Linked DNA regions of Homo sapiens: region 1 is linked to region 2. Evidence: fine-mapped expression QTL. Tissue or cell type: whole blood. Region 2 holds a variant in brackets; the other region holds the start of a gene. All regions are shown on one strand. Distances are between the middles of the regions.

Region 1 (8,106 bases), 250 kb after region 2:
GGAAGGGGTCCCGAAACATGGCAGCAGGCACGAGATACATGTCACTGTTGGAACCCTCAGACTGTAAAGTACTAGAGCCATCGAAATTCCACTCAGGCAACTCTGGGGCAAAAAGAGGGAAAATTACATTTAAAACATACAGGAGCTTTCCAAGCAATGCAAATACAGCCAGCCCTTCACTCACCTTCCCATCTCTAAATATCTCTTTTCCAGGAATTCATTAAGGTATAAATGCCATCATTAATATGTATACCCTGGCACCTGTACCTGATCTTATAGCCCTTCCTATTTGAGTTCCAAGTAAGACCATTGTACCAATTCCTTAAAAGAAATATATCAGATACTCCCTTCCCAAATGTCTTCCAGGAGACAAGCTGAAGCATTCTGTTATCACTACCATCCTATCAATCACTTAAAATATTGAGATAGTGAAGGATTCTGATTCTTCCATTAGGTAATGTGTTGCATCCTTCTTATGCCCCCAGTGTATTCTGGCAAGTTATGTCCTTATTTTATAGATGAGGGAACAGACGACTAGCAGGATGACTTACTCTAGGATGCTCCCTTATCACCTATCCACCTTTCCCACTGTTTTGAAGGCTGCTTGGTCTCTCTAGCTGACTGAGTTCTCTGAAGGCAGAGACGAGACTCTCACTTTGTATCTTCAGTGTCTGTGCACTATCATCTGCCACATAGCAAGTACACAATATAGGCTTTGTATTATGATCATTCACTTACTCAAAAAGGAAAAGTAAACTACCCTAAACTAGGTAGGATATGATACTTTCCTCTGGCCCCTTTCCAGAAGAGGGAAGACTATGGCTTGTTCTAGACTGAAAAATGAAGGTCACAACTATAATCTAACTGTAGCTCCTAGAGGGATACGCAATTAGTTTAAGAATTTCCAAAAGTGGCATCAACTAAAAATTAGTCCTATTTAAAAACCATTGTAGAGCATTTGCTTCACATCTAGAAGCCAGTGATATGAGTATTAAACACAGTTTTCTAAGAGTTTGTAAACTAGATGGCATTCTCAGGTTAGAGCAGTGGTTTTCTGAGGGTGCCTTAGAGCCAGCTAAGTGGGGATGTCCAGGTCGGCAACCTCTAAGCCCCATGCCAACTCTCCATAAACCAGACTTAGTTTTTCTTCAATACACTGGCCTACGTGCACAATTCCATTGAAATAAAGGGTTCCATCGTCGCTCTGCTTTGAGGCAGTGTAGGAGCTTAATGTTGACTGAATAAAGTCTGAAAAGCCCTGCCTTAGAAAACCTTTACAAACAGAAGAAAGAGGCCTAATCCAGAGGCTGAGTCAAAGGCTGCTGCCCACCCCTCTGCAGATCCCACCCAGCATGTGCTCCACTCCACATTGCTGTCTCACCTTCCACACACTTGGGCTCACTGTCCAGGGTCCGGGTCTTGCAGCGCAGTCCTTCTCCAGTACCATCGATCCAGATATACATGGCCTGGACTTTCTCACCCTGAGGCAGGGACATGTACACCTGCTTGATGCCTTTATTTAAGTGGGAACTTGCTGAGGTGGTCATGGTGGAAGGTGTTCTGGAGAAGAAAAAAAGAATAACATTGTTAACGCCCACTCCAAACTGATCCCCTGCAAAAATGGCTCAAGAAGGACGACTGAATCAAAAGTCAGAGTGTAAGTGCCAACTCCTTCCCTTGTGGAAGTCAACACACAAAAAGTTATGTTTACTCACTCTTTCAGGGGGATTAGTTTTATAGTAGGCAAAAATCTCCTTTATAATAGGCTGTAAAACTGATCACCACCTTTTGAAACAATTAACACAGATGCCTGCTAAAGAAAAGATCAGGCCCTTGGTAGTAACTCAATGCCTCTGCATCCCTGAGCTCACAGGCTTAAGTTCCACAGCTACTGCAGAACCCAGGCTTCCAAGCTAGAACTTATACTTGTGAGGACTAAGGTCTATTCCTTCAGTGTAGCTGAGGTTAACACTAAACTATCCAAATACTAAACTATCAGAGGAAACAAATCAAAACCAATACACAAATTTACAAAACATAGAACTTCTTCCAATATAAGTAAAATCCAGCCACAGAACAGGCTTGGCTTCCACAGTTTGTTTTTCTCTTTGTCTTTCATCCTAGCTGTGGTCTTAACTCAAACCCACCGCCCCTCCCCACCAAAAGAAAACTCATTACACATTTAGATTTGAGGATGAAACAAGGTTACAATATATTTTTTTAGAAGGCTAGCAGTTTCCTACACAAAAGCTGATTCAAGCCAGATTCTAAGGGGAATGCTGCCATAATTTCCATAGGTCTCATGCAAAGTCTCACTTAAGATAGTGGGCAAGAATCACAACATTATGGAATTCTACAAGACTTGTCAAGTAATTAGGAAATTTCCACTTCTAAATCAAAAAGATCTGGAAATTTAAAAGCCATGAGGCATACTAATAACTGCCAGCCACTACCACAAAACCTCCGAAAGAAGAGAAACTCTCAAGCCACAACAGCCGAAGAGGAAACATTCTCTCTCTCCCTCCTCCCTCCGTGGACCAGGGTGGCTAGAAAGGGAACACATTGTTCTCCTCCAACGACTAGGGCAACGTTCTGAAGTACAGTGGCAAAGTTTCTACGGGCAACCGTCCATGTTTGCCCAGCTGAAAACATAACTGCTTCTCCCTCAGCCTCACCACCCTTCCCCTTGGGGAAGACCAACACCCCAATATTGCCTCTAGAAGACTCAGCCGGCCAAATCCTACTTCCCACCTCCATCCCAGAACCCTTTAGCTCCCGCTAAAAGCTACAACCCACCGAAGCGGGCAGATCACCTGAGGTACAAAGTTCGAGACCAGCCTGGCCAACACGATGAAACTCCCGTCTCTACTAAAAATACAAAAATTAGCCGGGCGTGGTTGTGCACGCCTGTAATCCCAGCTACTCGGGAGGCTGACACAGGAGAATCGCCTGAACCCCAGAGGCAGAGGTTGCAGTGAGCCGGGAGATTGCACCACTGCACTCCAACCTGGGTAACAGATAGAGACTCTGTCGGAAAACAAAAAAAAAAAACCTACAACCCAATTTCTCGGCTGTCCTCTCCAACATGTTACACCACCAATATCATGCACACTTTGTCCTAAGCCTCAGTTTCGGATCTCTTGCTCTTTTCCGTGAGCCGAGTTGCATGCCAGCAGCCTAGTGCCACTCTATCAACTGCTGCTGCTGCGGTGCCAAGTTTACGTGGGGGAAATGGATTCTGAAGTTTTCAGCAGTTTCTGCAGCTCCCACCAACTCCGGGGTCGTCCTCCCTGCCCCCTCACTCACCCCAGCCACAGAAAGTCAAGCGTATCGTTAGGGTTGCCCTCTTTAACCCTTCTCTTTTTGGAGTGGCGTTCGCGCCTCTCCTCTTTCTCAGACTCTAGCTGGTCCAAGCACCGGAGCTTTCTGGGAGAGGGCGATGGAGAAGGGGACAGACAGCGGCCGGCCCGGGGGGTGTCCGAACAGGCAGGTTGGTGGGTTAAGGTCTTAATCTTGACTCGAGATCTCTCCCCGGAGTTCACAGAGTAGGCGACGAAGCCGAAGCAGCTGGAGCGCGACCCGGAGGAGTCTGACTTCTCGTTGTCTTCATAATTTTCATTCGTTGCTTTCTTCGTGGACTTGCGGCTGGGGGAGGATCCCCGCTTCCCGCCCCCGAGGGAGTTATAATTATCCACTTTGAGAGCAGCCCCTTCCCACTGAAATGTCCCTAAAGTGGGCGCCCTGCCCCTCGGGCCCCCGTCCGAATCTCAGGGCCTCACGGAGGTGGCCATACCCTGCCGCCGAGGGGTTGGGGGGTCCGGGGGAGGGTGGGGGCGCAGGCCGTAGGGACTGCGCGCTGCTGCTGCCTCCGCCCGGACCGGCTTCTCCACTGACTGCGCCGAGGCCCGGGCTCTCCATTGTTCGGTCACATTGGAAGGCCCCCGGGACCCCGAGGCGGGAGCCGGCCGCCCAAACAACGCTCACCGTTACACGCCGCAATCGAGGCGTCTCAACCATCGCCAGAACCAGGACGATTGCTCCGAAGGCCCCACCACGAGGAAGGCAGCCAGGCGCCCGCGCCAACCAAGCGCCTTGTTTGCGCTCCACAGGGGACCGCACCGCCACTCCATCCACAGCGCAAACAAACCACTGCGAGCCCCAGGGCGCAGGCCGGCCCAACGGCCTCCAGGGGCGGCGCTTCGGCCGCAAGTAGTGAAAAGAAGATCAAAACAACTCACCCCGCCCTTCCCAGAGCCTGGCCAAGGGCGCGCCCCACCAGCGCCAGCCCCGACGGGTCCAAGCCACCAGCGGCGGAAGCACGCGGGAGGAGCACTCATGCCGGATCTCAGGCATGGGCCGGAGAGGCCGCAGCGTAGGGCTGGGACTGGAGGGGCAGGCAGCCGAAAAAAGAGGCTGGGCGGCGCGCCTCGCGGGGTAGCAGGGGCGGCGCGCCTCGCTTGCGTGACACCGGGCCGTCCGGGGGCTTACCTGGTCGCCGAGCAGGCGGGCGGGTAAAGCTAGGCCGCGAGAGCGAGGTTAGGAGAGGAGAGGAGGCCGCAGTACTGCTCACACGCTCCGCTCTTCTCCCACTCTCGACTCTGCAGAGCCGCCAGCAGCCCCGCACCCTTTATCCGCGGCCCGGGGCCGCCCCCGGTGCCCTGATTGGCTCCCAGCGGCCAGGAGCCCGGGCCGATCAGCTGATGCGGTCCCGGGCCCCGCGGCCATTGGGCGAGGAGCCCGGCGGGCGCCGCTGGGGTGGGGGCAAGCGAACTGGGAAAGAAAGAAAGAAAGAGAAAGGGGCGTGGGGGAGGGGCAGGGCGGCGTGGGGGAAGGGAGCGGAGCCGGGAGGGCTGAGGGCAGAGGGGCGAGTTGCCGCCAGGCCGGGAAGCCTCGGCTCGCCGCCCACCCGCCAGCTCGCCAGGTGCCGCCCCACGGCCCCCAACCCGGGGTCCCGAGGCTCCCAGCAAAGCCCGCCCTGGACCTCTGCCCTGCCGCCTTCACGGGGAATAGTTTTACGAGGAGAGCTCCCTGGGGAAATGCGGAACCAGGGAAACCGAATTTAGCCTTTTGTTGCGAGGGAGCCTCCGAGCCCCGCTTCCTGCGGGCAGGGGTTAGCTTGAGAGGGAGCGCGGGGCGCGGGACCCGAGGGAACTTTGGGCGGGCCTGGGCTAGGGCGGGTGCCGCGCGGGCCTGGGGACAGGCCGGGGTTCCCAAGGCCTGGAAGAGCCGCCCGCTCCGGCTCTCTTGGGTCTGGGGAAATAAACAGAACTCTGCCATTTCACATTTGAAATCAACGTGCTGTTTCTCTAATTTTACAGAGAGGATTCTGGAGGGCGGTAGAAACTAAGTCTGGAGACCTGTCTCATACTGCTGGCCAGACCCTAGGCAGGTCTTTCAGGGCCCAAGTTTCCTCATCTGCAAAATAAAGTGGTCATCGAAAATGACCTGTGGAGCCGCCCACTAGATTTGAAATTCTGTGTGCAAACTGCCCCCGGAGCAGCTGAAAGGAAATCGAGGTGTTCACTTGCCCCCTTTGAAGTCCAGGGATTGTCAAGAAATTCCTTTAACGAATTCTCCCTGATTTTGCTTTATCAAGTGCGGCTTCTTGTTAATCTGGAAAATGGGAATACATACCTCTCCTCTCAGCTTGCCGTGATGGTTGGGAAAATGTGTATGTGAACACAATATTGAAATGTACCTAGAGACACAACATAGGTAGGTAGGTAGGTAGGTAGGTAGATACTGCTATCCGTACTATTACTCGATCATTCTATTTTTAGTGCCTGAAATCTACCTGATGGTGTCCAGATTTTATTGCTTCTTTCAGTTTAAAGAGCAAGAATTTATGCTTCCAGTGCCTTTGGAAGAGGAAGGGAAGAAGTTTGTTCTGGTTATGTTTTGTACCGCAAATGTGGAAAAGAAATGTTGCCTGCAACCACACACACATAACTTGGCTTCTTTGGTCAACATCCCTTTCCTTTAAGAGTGTATAACACTGTAGTGCTTTTACATGACAGATGCAGCATTCATCTCAAACAGGGTTTTTTGGGATGTTTCAGACTGGTGACATTTTGGATTGGGTAAGGTGCCTTACAAATTCCTTGTTAAATTTCAGTGCTGCCCCTTGAAGCATTACATTGTGGTGGCTAAAGGCACGGCTGCAAGTCAGGTAAACCTAGGTTCAAATCTGGGCTTTCCCTTCATACCAGCTTTGTGTTGGCCAAATCACTTAGCCACATGAAGCCTGTTTCTTTGTCTATAATAAAAGAGGGATAATCATTTTTACCTCATAAAAGGATTAATTGTGATAGCACATGCAGAAGAGATTGAGTAGTCCTTGGTGCATCGTAAATGTTTAGAAAACAGCAATTATAATTATCATAGGCCAAGTTCTATAATCTGAGGTGATTGGATTCTTTCTTTCCCCATAGCGACTTTTGAATACAACTTTTCTGACTCAGTGTAATGCTTTACCATTCATTATATCAAACTGGACTTAACCTTGGTAACACAGTGAGCTGTCTTCATCTCTTTCTGTAAAGGTTTGAGTTTAAATGGTCGAGGAAGGGGAGCAAAGGAGGAGAAAAGTGATATTTTTATTTTAAAAGATGTTATTAATCATTTCCAGATACCAAACTACCGAACCATAAGCCAGAGCCTCTGCTGCACACACCACCAGCCCCTGAGGTGGGGATGACAAACATAACAGAGAACGGAATGGTAAGGCGTGAGTGCGGTTCTGCAGGCTTATGGTATTTCTGCCATTTGAGTGCCTGCTTCCCTTCCTAGATGTCTTGACCTCATTGAGCAGTTTATTCATTGTCATATCCCCCAGTAGTGTCCACGGTGAGTGTTCAATAAATGATATTTGTTAACCACACAGAAGTGACAGCAGCACCATCAAGAGAACATGTGCTTTGAGCTGCTTTTCCAAGAATGGAAATGGATTTGCTTTGATCCATTCATGTGACCAGGGGCACGCTTTGTAAGGGTTAGGAACATAATACATGACCACTGACTCTTTCAGGAGTGAACAAGAGGCCTTGTCCTCCTTGGCCAGCCCCACATTTACTTAAAATGATGAAATTAGGGCGCAGATGAGTCCAAGAACTGACCAGGGAGGCTTGAGCATAGGCGAGAAGTAAAAGCAGAAGAAAACCCTTAACTGGTTCACCCGCAGAAACCCAGACTGTACTTTTAGAGAAGTTAAAAGTAAAACAGCCTGTTTCATCCAGTTTGACTTTGCTGTGTCTGCTGCCCTTTCTTCTCCTTCCCCTTCTTCCCTAAATTGCCACCCGCCCCCATTCTTCACCCCCACCATAAAAAGAGCATTAGAATGCTTGAACCCATGAACTTTTCTGTTTCTTGGTACACACCATATCAGTGCTGACAAGGGGTTCCATTGCATGTGCTTTGAAGTCATATTTTTCTCTCTTAGAGTAGAATTGCCATGTCCAAGGGGTGGGTGGAGTGGGAGAGCAATTACAGGGAAAGATTTTGTTCCAAATCTGCAGAAATAGCCTGAGATTAAAAGTATTTCTTCAATGTTGTTCTGCTGCCTGAAATAAAAGCTTTGTATTAGGATTTTGCTCTACTCCCAAATCTTATCTCTATTAGGAAACAACTTTTCTCTTTTTTTTTTTTTTTTTTTTTTTTTTTTTTGAGACGGAGTCTTACTCTGTTGCTCAGGCTGGATGCAGTGGCGCAATCTCGGCTCACTGCAACCTCCACTCACTGTAACCTCTGCCTCCCGGGTTCAAGCAATTCTCCTGCCTCAGCCTCCCAAGGAGCTGGGATTACAGGCGTGTGCCACCACACCCAGCTAATTTTTTGGTATTTTTAGTAGAGACGAGGTTTCACCATATTGGCCAGACTTGTCTTGAACTCCTGACCTTGTGATCCGCCTGCCTCGGCCTCCCAAAGTGCTGCGATTACAGGCGTGAGCCACTGTGCCCGGCCCTTTCTCTGTCTTTTAAAGGATCCATTCTCACTCTGCAAGTATGAAGTCCTTTACCTGGGGATCTGGAGTGCCTTCCCAGGGCCTGTGTGGTTGCCTTATACACATTAGACACAAAATTTAGGGTAGGGCTCACATTGACCAAACCT
Region 2 (8,106 bases):
TCTGCCCTCCTCGGCCTCCCAAAGTGCTGGGATTACAGGCGTGAACCACTGTGCCCAGCCGATCATTGCATTCTTTTTCATTCAGCACAGACCAAGCCTCCCAACTTCTTTTAGTACAGTGTTCTAGGGAGCCACTGTAGATTAATCAGAATCGGCACATGAGATGGGATCATTGCTGCCCTTGGCTTATACTCCAGTGATGTTATCTCAGATGCAGCCTCAGATTCTGATTCAGCACTGGAATCCTGAACAAGTGACATCAAATGCTGATCTACCACCATAAATTGCATTCTAGCATGTTTACTTGGAGTTTGCATGGTTTTCTTTATAAGCTCTCCTGGTGATCCTAAGGTGCAACCAAGGCTGACAACCATCTGCCTTTCTTATTTCTGACCCTTTAAATCAATCTGAAGCACTCAGGATTGCTGGCCCATAGAGAGAAACTGAAAATCCCAGCTTGCCTTAGCTACCATTACCAAAAACCCAGCTCCTTCACCTGTTCCTAACTAACTTTTACTTTGTTCTCATCCTTCTTGGCTCTCGGGTCCTGTGTTGCAATGGGTGGAAACAGCCAAGTTTCATCTCAGGCTGTAGAACCCAACCCTGATCTTTTCTCTAAACAAGCAGGAACCCTAGGAGCTAGACAGAGGCTGGGATGCTGTATCTTAGAAACCGGAGATGCTGGGGCTCCAGGAATCTTGCAGAGGGATGTAGTGCATGGAGGTGAGGGAGGGATCCAAGGGAAAAATGGAAGTTAAATTCATGGGCAACATTCCAGAGATTCATCATCAAAGCAGAGGACCTAGGCAAGGAGACTCTAGGATCATGATCCAGGGAAAACAGCACAGAGAAGGGAAGGGTTTGTAGCAGAGTTCAGGTGGTGAAGCCTGGAGAAATTCTCTAAGGTGCAGATAATACCTGCAGCTGTGGCTTACTATAAGCCTATGACCTGAGGCTGGGTGAGGTCACCCTGTAGCCTCCCTGGACCTAGCTGTTTACCTGCAGAGCTCAAGGAATTTGTGTGGTTATCCTTTTGCCACCTCAGCTTCAAATAAAAGGTTTGGCAAAGGTTTGGCTTTGGGGAGCCTAAAGCAGGATTTTGGAGATTAGCCAAAGAGACTACAGAGATTCCTTTCTTTTTTTTTTTTTTTTTTTTTTTTTTTTTGAGATAGAGTCTTGCTCTGTCACCCAGGATAGAGTGCAGTGGCATGATCTTGGCTCACTACAACCTTCGGCTCCCGGGATCAAGTGATTCTCATGCCTCAGCCTCCTGAGTAGCTGAGATTATAGGCATGTGCCACCACACCCAGCCTTTTTTCTTTTTTTTTCTTTTTTTTCTTTTTTTTGAGACGGATCCTCGCTCTGTCGCTGAGGCTGGAGTGCAATGGCGTGATCTTGGCTCATTGCAACCTCTGCCTCCTGGGTTCAAGCAATTCTCCTGCCTCAGCCTCCCAAGTAGCTGAGACTACAAGTGTCTGCCACCATGCCTGACTAATTTTTTGGTATTTTTTAGTGGAGATGGGGGTTTCACCATGTTAGCCAGGCTGGTCTTGAACTCCTGACCTCAGGTGATCTGGCCACTTCGGCCTCCCAAAATGTTGGAATTAAGACATGAGCCACAGCACCCGGCCCCTATTTTTGTATTCTTAAAAGAGACCAGGTTTCCCCATGTTGGCCAGGCTAGTCTTGGCCAACTCCTGACCTCAAGTATCTGCCCACCTCAGCCTCCCAAAGTGCTGGGATTACAGTCATGAGACGCCATGCCTGGCTGGGATACTGAATTTTGAATCAGAAAATCCAGACTTTACAATAGTCAAAACCATATCTTATTTGTCTTTCTGCTCCATTACCCAGGATTTTACTTAGAACATCAGTAGACACCTGAAAACATTGGTCAAATAGAAGTGAATAAATGATTAAAGAACAAATTAACAAGTAAATGAAGCCCGACATAAATAAAGGCCCTGCTAATCCACCAGCTACACTCGTGTGACAAAGGCCCCAGAGATACCCATGCTCTATATCCATGGAATTGTGCCATGGGGCTGGCTTACTGGGGATTCTATTTACCTGTGGTCTTGACGGGCCTCCCTGGAGAAACAGTAACCTGACATCTGGAGAGTACATTTGGCTCTGTGAACTAGGTCAGATCTGCAGACTTGTGGTTTACCCACTTAGACCCATGCCACACACAGCAGGCCCCTGATGAGAGCCCTGGCATCCTTGCCTTGTGCTTCTTCACCATCCCCTCCCAGATCTCACCTGGCCTCTTTGGTCCCAACTGTGTGTGTGCCTCCTCTCCTCTCTCTAGCTTCTTGCTCTTCTCTATGCCCTTTGCCTGACCCTGCCTCTCTGGTTCTGACCTTGGCTCCCCTCCTGTTTTGCAGTGAGCATTTACCCTTCAGATCATATCTGCAGCTGCCACTCTGGGCAAACTCCCTCTCCCTCAAACTTGGCCTCCATGTCCATTGGCCATAGGCTGATTTTCCCACTGTGCTTGGTCAGGCTTCATGGGTGGAATTCAGACACCAGGACTGGGCATCCTGGTCAAAACCAGGGGCAAACGCTCTCACCTGCATTCTTGGGCGGGAGGCAGGGGTCCCAGGCGGCCAAGAAACTCACCCCATAACTGAACAGAGGTGGCATGCCCACACTCCGTCCCTGGACAAGGGAAGCTCAAATTCAAATAGTATACAACATTGTGCTTCTCACATAGTAAAACCAGTCTTTCAGAAATGTGTCCTGAATTCCTAAGGGGAGGAAGGGAGAAAGATCCTCCAGAAAATAAAAAAAAAAATTCCAATAAAACGAAGTTGGTCCACTGGCAATATAGTACAAAACAAAGATCTTGGTAAGAAAACATCTCCCTGATTTTGGGGTTCCCATGAAAATAACACAGGTCCCCATGAAAATAACGTAGATGAAGCAGCAGAGAACTGACAAAGGCTGTGGAAACATGGAAAGAGTAATGATAACGCAGAAATCAGAGGTGAAGTAAAAGCACAAGTGAACCTTCACAAAGCTGGGCTAAGTGATATTAACGTAGCTGCTATTAACCAGAAATTCCCAGTCAAGTCAACCAGGCTTGGCAGTGGTGGCCACCAGAGGGCGCTAGAGTAGAGTCCGTGGGAGAACTTCAGCGGTGGCCCTGCAGGTTTGAGAGGCACCTTCCCGGAGGATGGATTTGAAGGGCTGAGGGTCCAGCAGTTCTGTGGGTTGGCGGCTCACAGGAGAAAGCATGAAGACATACTTCCATCCTCACACCCCCGAAGGTCCTTGCCTGGACTGGAAGCTAAAGAAGCGCATGCTACATTGTTTTCCTAGTGACAAAAATCCCAGCTGGCCTCTGGTTAACTTTTCAAACAAATGGCACTGATGTGATATTGGGCGAACTCTAGGTGTCACTGACCTAATAAAAAGAAAAAAGCTATTTGCTTCCCATTTTCCGATGCAGTGAGGATTTCACAGTGATCTCAAACACAGTGAAATACATAAAAAGAGCCTAGCTTAATGGGGGCACCCAGCAAATGCCCAATAAACATCTGTTCCCTTTCCTCAATAAACCCCATTTGCCTCTCAGCCTGCAGCCTCCCACACTGGTGGACCCACGTGCCCCTCAGAAGTGAAGCTTTTGGCCCCTGTAAAGCAGCAGCCCCTCTGGCCAGAGAGTCTTTTGTCCCAGAGCCTTTGTTGTTCCAGATTTCTCACTGTGAGGCCTCAGCAGCTGCCAGGGGGCCACCCCAGGAGCTGGAATCAGAGCTCAGAAAGACAGCAGTCCTTCTTCTGCTCCTTTCTGGGCCCGCATGCCCCAGCCCCACACCCAGCCTCAACCACACTGCCCTGCACACCCTCACCGTGCCCCCACTTCTCCACAATGTGTTTCTAATCTGCCCAGGAACAGTCACCAGCTCACTTTTCCTGCCTGGTCTCATTAGCGTGGCCTCTGGGCCTGGGCCTGGGTGTGTAGCCCAGAGGCTTGCACGGAGGTGATCAGATTGCAGGGAACAGTATGTTTCCCTCCCTGCCTCTGCTTGTTTTCTTCAGGGGCCAGGGCCAGCCAGCTGAGCTGTCTTCCTCTTCCCCGGCTTCTCATCCTCCCTCACACATGGTCTGACTTCAGTGGGTGGGGGGATGAGCAGAGGGTGTGACACACACGAGTGTGCATGACTGGCATGTAGGGAGTGTGAGTTGTGGGCAGGTTTCTTAAGGGGAGGCAAGGCTGCTACTACTCCGGGAAACAGGCCTGGGAGCCAGGGGGAGTGGAGGAGGAAGGCCAAGCTGGGGATTTGTACAGACCAGTTCTGGCCAGATCTCTTAAAATGTTTTGTTCTTGCATTGCTGCTGCTGCTGCTGTTGGTTTTTT[T/C]CCCCCCTTCCCTGTGCTGAGCTGTCATTTCTTAGTCCAGCCAGGCCCTTATGAACTTCTGGTTCCTCTAAACGGTAAACACCCTGGTTTTCCAGACTACACCATAGCTCTCTTTTCTTATTTGCCTTCAAAATACACTTTAAAAAAAAAAAAAAGAAAGTAGAAAATGGCAATATCAGTGATAAGGGCAGGGCATGCACTGAAAAAGAACAGTTCAATCTAACATTTATCGAGCCTGCCACCTTCCTCAGCTTTATTCTCTCCTTTCTTGTTCTTGGTAACAGCAGATAAGAAATCAGCTGTGGGTCAATACGTGAAAAATGTTCACTCTTTTAGAGTAGTATTAAAATAAATATTTTCAATGACAACATTAAGCAGTTAATAATTAAAGCATGTGCATATGTATACTTAAAAGGGGCTGGAGTCCCTTCTGTCCAAATCAAATTTTCCACAAGCGTTGGTAACAAGGTGGCTGGGAATGTTGAGATGTGAGACTGGCCTTCCAAGGATCAGGAGGGCAGCTGGTGGTGGGTCTGCTCTCTCTCATCACTCTCAGTGGCGACATCACCGTCCATCCTCCCCAGTACTAAGATCTGCTTCAGGAAAGAGCCTGAAACCAGCCACATGTATCTCATGTTGGTGAAGGAAAATCACAGTAGTGGTCCTCAGTGGGACTCTAAAATGACTTCACATCAGCCTCATTTGGTAAATGAGGAAACTGAGGCTCCAAGAGGTGATGTGTGTCACCCAAGTTTCCATAGCAGAGCTAGAAAAAGACCTTGTTCCTGGGGTCCTGGGAGAGGGTCCTACTGCCCAGCTCTGACGGATGAAAGGAAGGCTTTTTTCCATGGTACCAGCTGTTGCTATGGGCAACCCTAGAGATCACTCTGTGGGGTGTGGGATCCTTCGGGAGAGCTTGTGCTTCCATTTGGAGAGACTTCACAAAGAGGGTGTGCCATGGGGACTAACATAAAAAATCAAGAGTGGGGAGACAGAAAGAGGAAGGTCAGCAGAACTGTCCAGATTTCTACAATGCCCGCCCTTCTTAGGCAAGCTAAGCCATCTACGTGTTGGGGGCATGGTTGCTGGCCCTCCGGAAACCCCTCGGATCTGAAGAGCAGACAAGAGCATCTGTCATCTCACAGAGATGCCTTGGGATTTGAATACTTGTTTTGTCTTTGGCCTGGAGTTTTACTCTTAGAGCTCCTTGCCCAGATATTCCATGGTAACCCACTGTCATATTCTGCATAGTCCTCTGAGATAAATATGGAGAAATTATGGAATGCAGGGGAAAGAATTCTGAACTTCAAATGAGAAGAGCTGGGTTTGTGTCTGGCTTCACTCCTTACTTGTGTCTAATCAAAAGCAAATCAAAATTGAAAGTAAGAGCTAAATTTTTGTTAAGGTAGGATTTTAAGGCAATTGTTAAGTCAAAGATGTATCTTAAGCACCACATTCAAAACCACGTATTCTCGTACATCACTCTTACTGTATTTTCTAGACTCTAAGAAGCCATTGACTAAGACACAGCAGCGAGTTAATAACAGCTTTTAGGGGGAAAGGAGAAGAAAAATGTTTCTCTGTTAAACATACACATCAATTGTAAGACACAGGATCTCTGAAATGTCAGGTGTGAAGATCAAGCTTCTTGGAATGAAAGAAACAGTGGTATTGTTAACATTTTGAAGGAAGACTGGCTCAGGGAAGGGCAAAAGACATTTTTGAACACACGGCTACTTATCGGGTTAGTAGAATGTTCCCCAAATTCTCCTTTGTAATACCTACATCCTCTTTGGCTGTTCCCCTCCTGGTCCTCAGTCTTTTGTTTACCTGTCATTGAAACTTTCCACCAGTTTGGCCAATGGCCATTGTGTCAACTGCAGCTCAGACTTGTCCAGGCAAACACCGGCTCACTGACCAGGTGCTCACCAAGCCTCAGGGTACACATACCAGCCCCGCGGTACCATACCCTCAGGGTACACAACCACACCCACAGACACCTGGTAATACTGCTTCATACTACATTAATTTTCCTGTAAGCAAACTTTCTGACTTAAATCATTTTGTTTCAGAAGTAAAAGTGATAATTTCACTTTACATGCAAAACCTATATCACTTCTGTAGATACAAAGTAAGCATAAAAATAGTAAAATGGGCCAAGCACAATGGCTCACACCTGTAATCCCAGCACTTTGGGAGGTCGAGGCAGGCAGATCACTTGAGGTCAGGAGTTCGAGACCAGCCTGGCCAACATGGTGAAACCCCGTCTCTACTAAAAATACAAAAATTAGACGAGCATGGTGGCGCATGCCTGTAATCCTAGCAACTCAGGAGGCTGAGGCAGGAGAATCACTTGAACCCAGGAGGCAGTGGTTGCAGTGAGCTGGGATCATGCCACTGCACTCCAGCCTAGGTGACAGAGCCAGACCCTGTCTCAAAAAAAAAAAAAAAAGTAAAATGGAAACATAGAAACTTAAAAAAAAAAAAACTATGTTGATTCTAATACCTTGTGTGTAGAATAAATCCAATCAATTTATGAAAATAATTTCCTCACTGAGAAAAATGAAACTGTAATCTTTCCATAAGAAAGGAATATTCAACCCCACGTACTAAGTTTAAGAGAACAGCGAGGAGCTATGTCTGTTAGGGCCAGTTACACGTAGGAGCCACAGTACCAGCTGCCTGCAGAGTAGCTGTGTGACCACAGGTCAGTTTCTCAACATCTGTGCGCCTTAGTTCCTTGTTTGTCAAACAGAAATGAAAATAACACCAATTTGGGGGTTATTTCTGATGACTAAATGAGTTAATGCATGCAAAGCACTTATGACAGTGCCTGGTATTTAGTAAGGTCTCAATACATGTTAGCTATAATGATAATCAGTAGTCAGGGTATTACAATTAGTAGTATTCATGACTTAAAATTCCTACTCACTGGAGTTGGAGTCAGAAAGATTTTTAAGACATTAACTGTTTTCTCTCATAAGACTGGTTACTCAGGGTTAGTTTCTAACCAAAATGATGAAAGTAGCTGTTGCCCAACAACTGCTCCTTAAAGAAGCCATCTCCAGGATGGAGTGTCAGAATATGTCCAGTTAAATCTGGTCATGTTTGGAAAGTGATGGAAAGTGGGTTCCTAATCTACTCCCTGCCACATTCCAGTTTAGAAAAATACTTATATATTTTTTTCATTTTCCAAGGATCACTATGTTCAAAACAATTTTGAACTAGTTATTCAGACGACTTCATTACCATGTGCTTCAGATAATGACAATAGTTTTTGATAAAATTTGAGTCTGGTTGAACGCTTGCTTGACTAGAAGACACATGTGTGGGTCCTTGGTGTACTGTCTGGGCCAGTGACCCCTTGCTGAGCATGAACTATATGCTATGCAGGGTTAAATTATTTAATTCTCATAGTAACCCAATGATTTAGGTACTCTTTCCCCTTTTTACGGCTGAGGAAAACCGAGGCACAGAGTGGTCAAGTGACTTAAGATTACAGTGTTAATCATGGGTTTGAGACAGAATTCAGAGGCCTTCCTCGGTGCCAGAACCCTGTTCTCCAAACTCCTCGGCCTCGTGGGAGTGACAGTGTAATCTGAGGCCACAGCCCTGCCTTAGCTTTTCCCATGGGCCCTGGCCTCAGAGAAAGGCACCAGGGTGGGATGTTCTGCCCCTATAGATTTCTGCTGGCCCAGCCCTACCTGGAAACCCAGATGATGAGCAAAGAAGCCCCTTGCATG

Evidence for each region. PIP is the estimated chance that this variant, and not a neighbour inherited with it, causes the effect.
Region 1: GLUL starts here. The variant in region 2 is fine-mapped to the expression of GLUL in whole blood (TOPMed, PIP above 0.99).

Annotation. Positions count from the first base shown.
Region 1 is chr1:182,387,191-182,395,296 of GRCh38, forward strand. It overlaps GLUL (glutamate-ammonia ligase), which reads right to left and starts at 4,600. Exons shown (of 7, transcript NM_001033044.4): 1 at 4,489-4,600; 2 at 1,382-1,560; 3 at 1-102. The coding sequence starts at 1,547. RefSeq lists a silencer at 4,336-5,015.
Region 2 is chr1:182,140,247-182,148,352 of GRCh38, forward strand. No RefSeq gene overlaps it. Among named protein-coding and RNA genes, the nearest start is that of ZNF648, 83 kb to the left of the region's middle. RefSeq lists a silencer at 3,128-3,304 and enhancers at 3,313-3,981, 3,982-4,649. The variant T/C (reference allele first, on the strand shown) is at 4,364.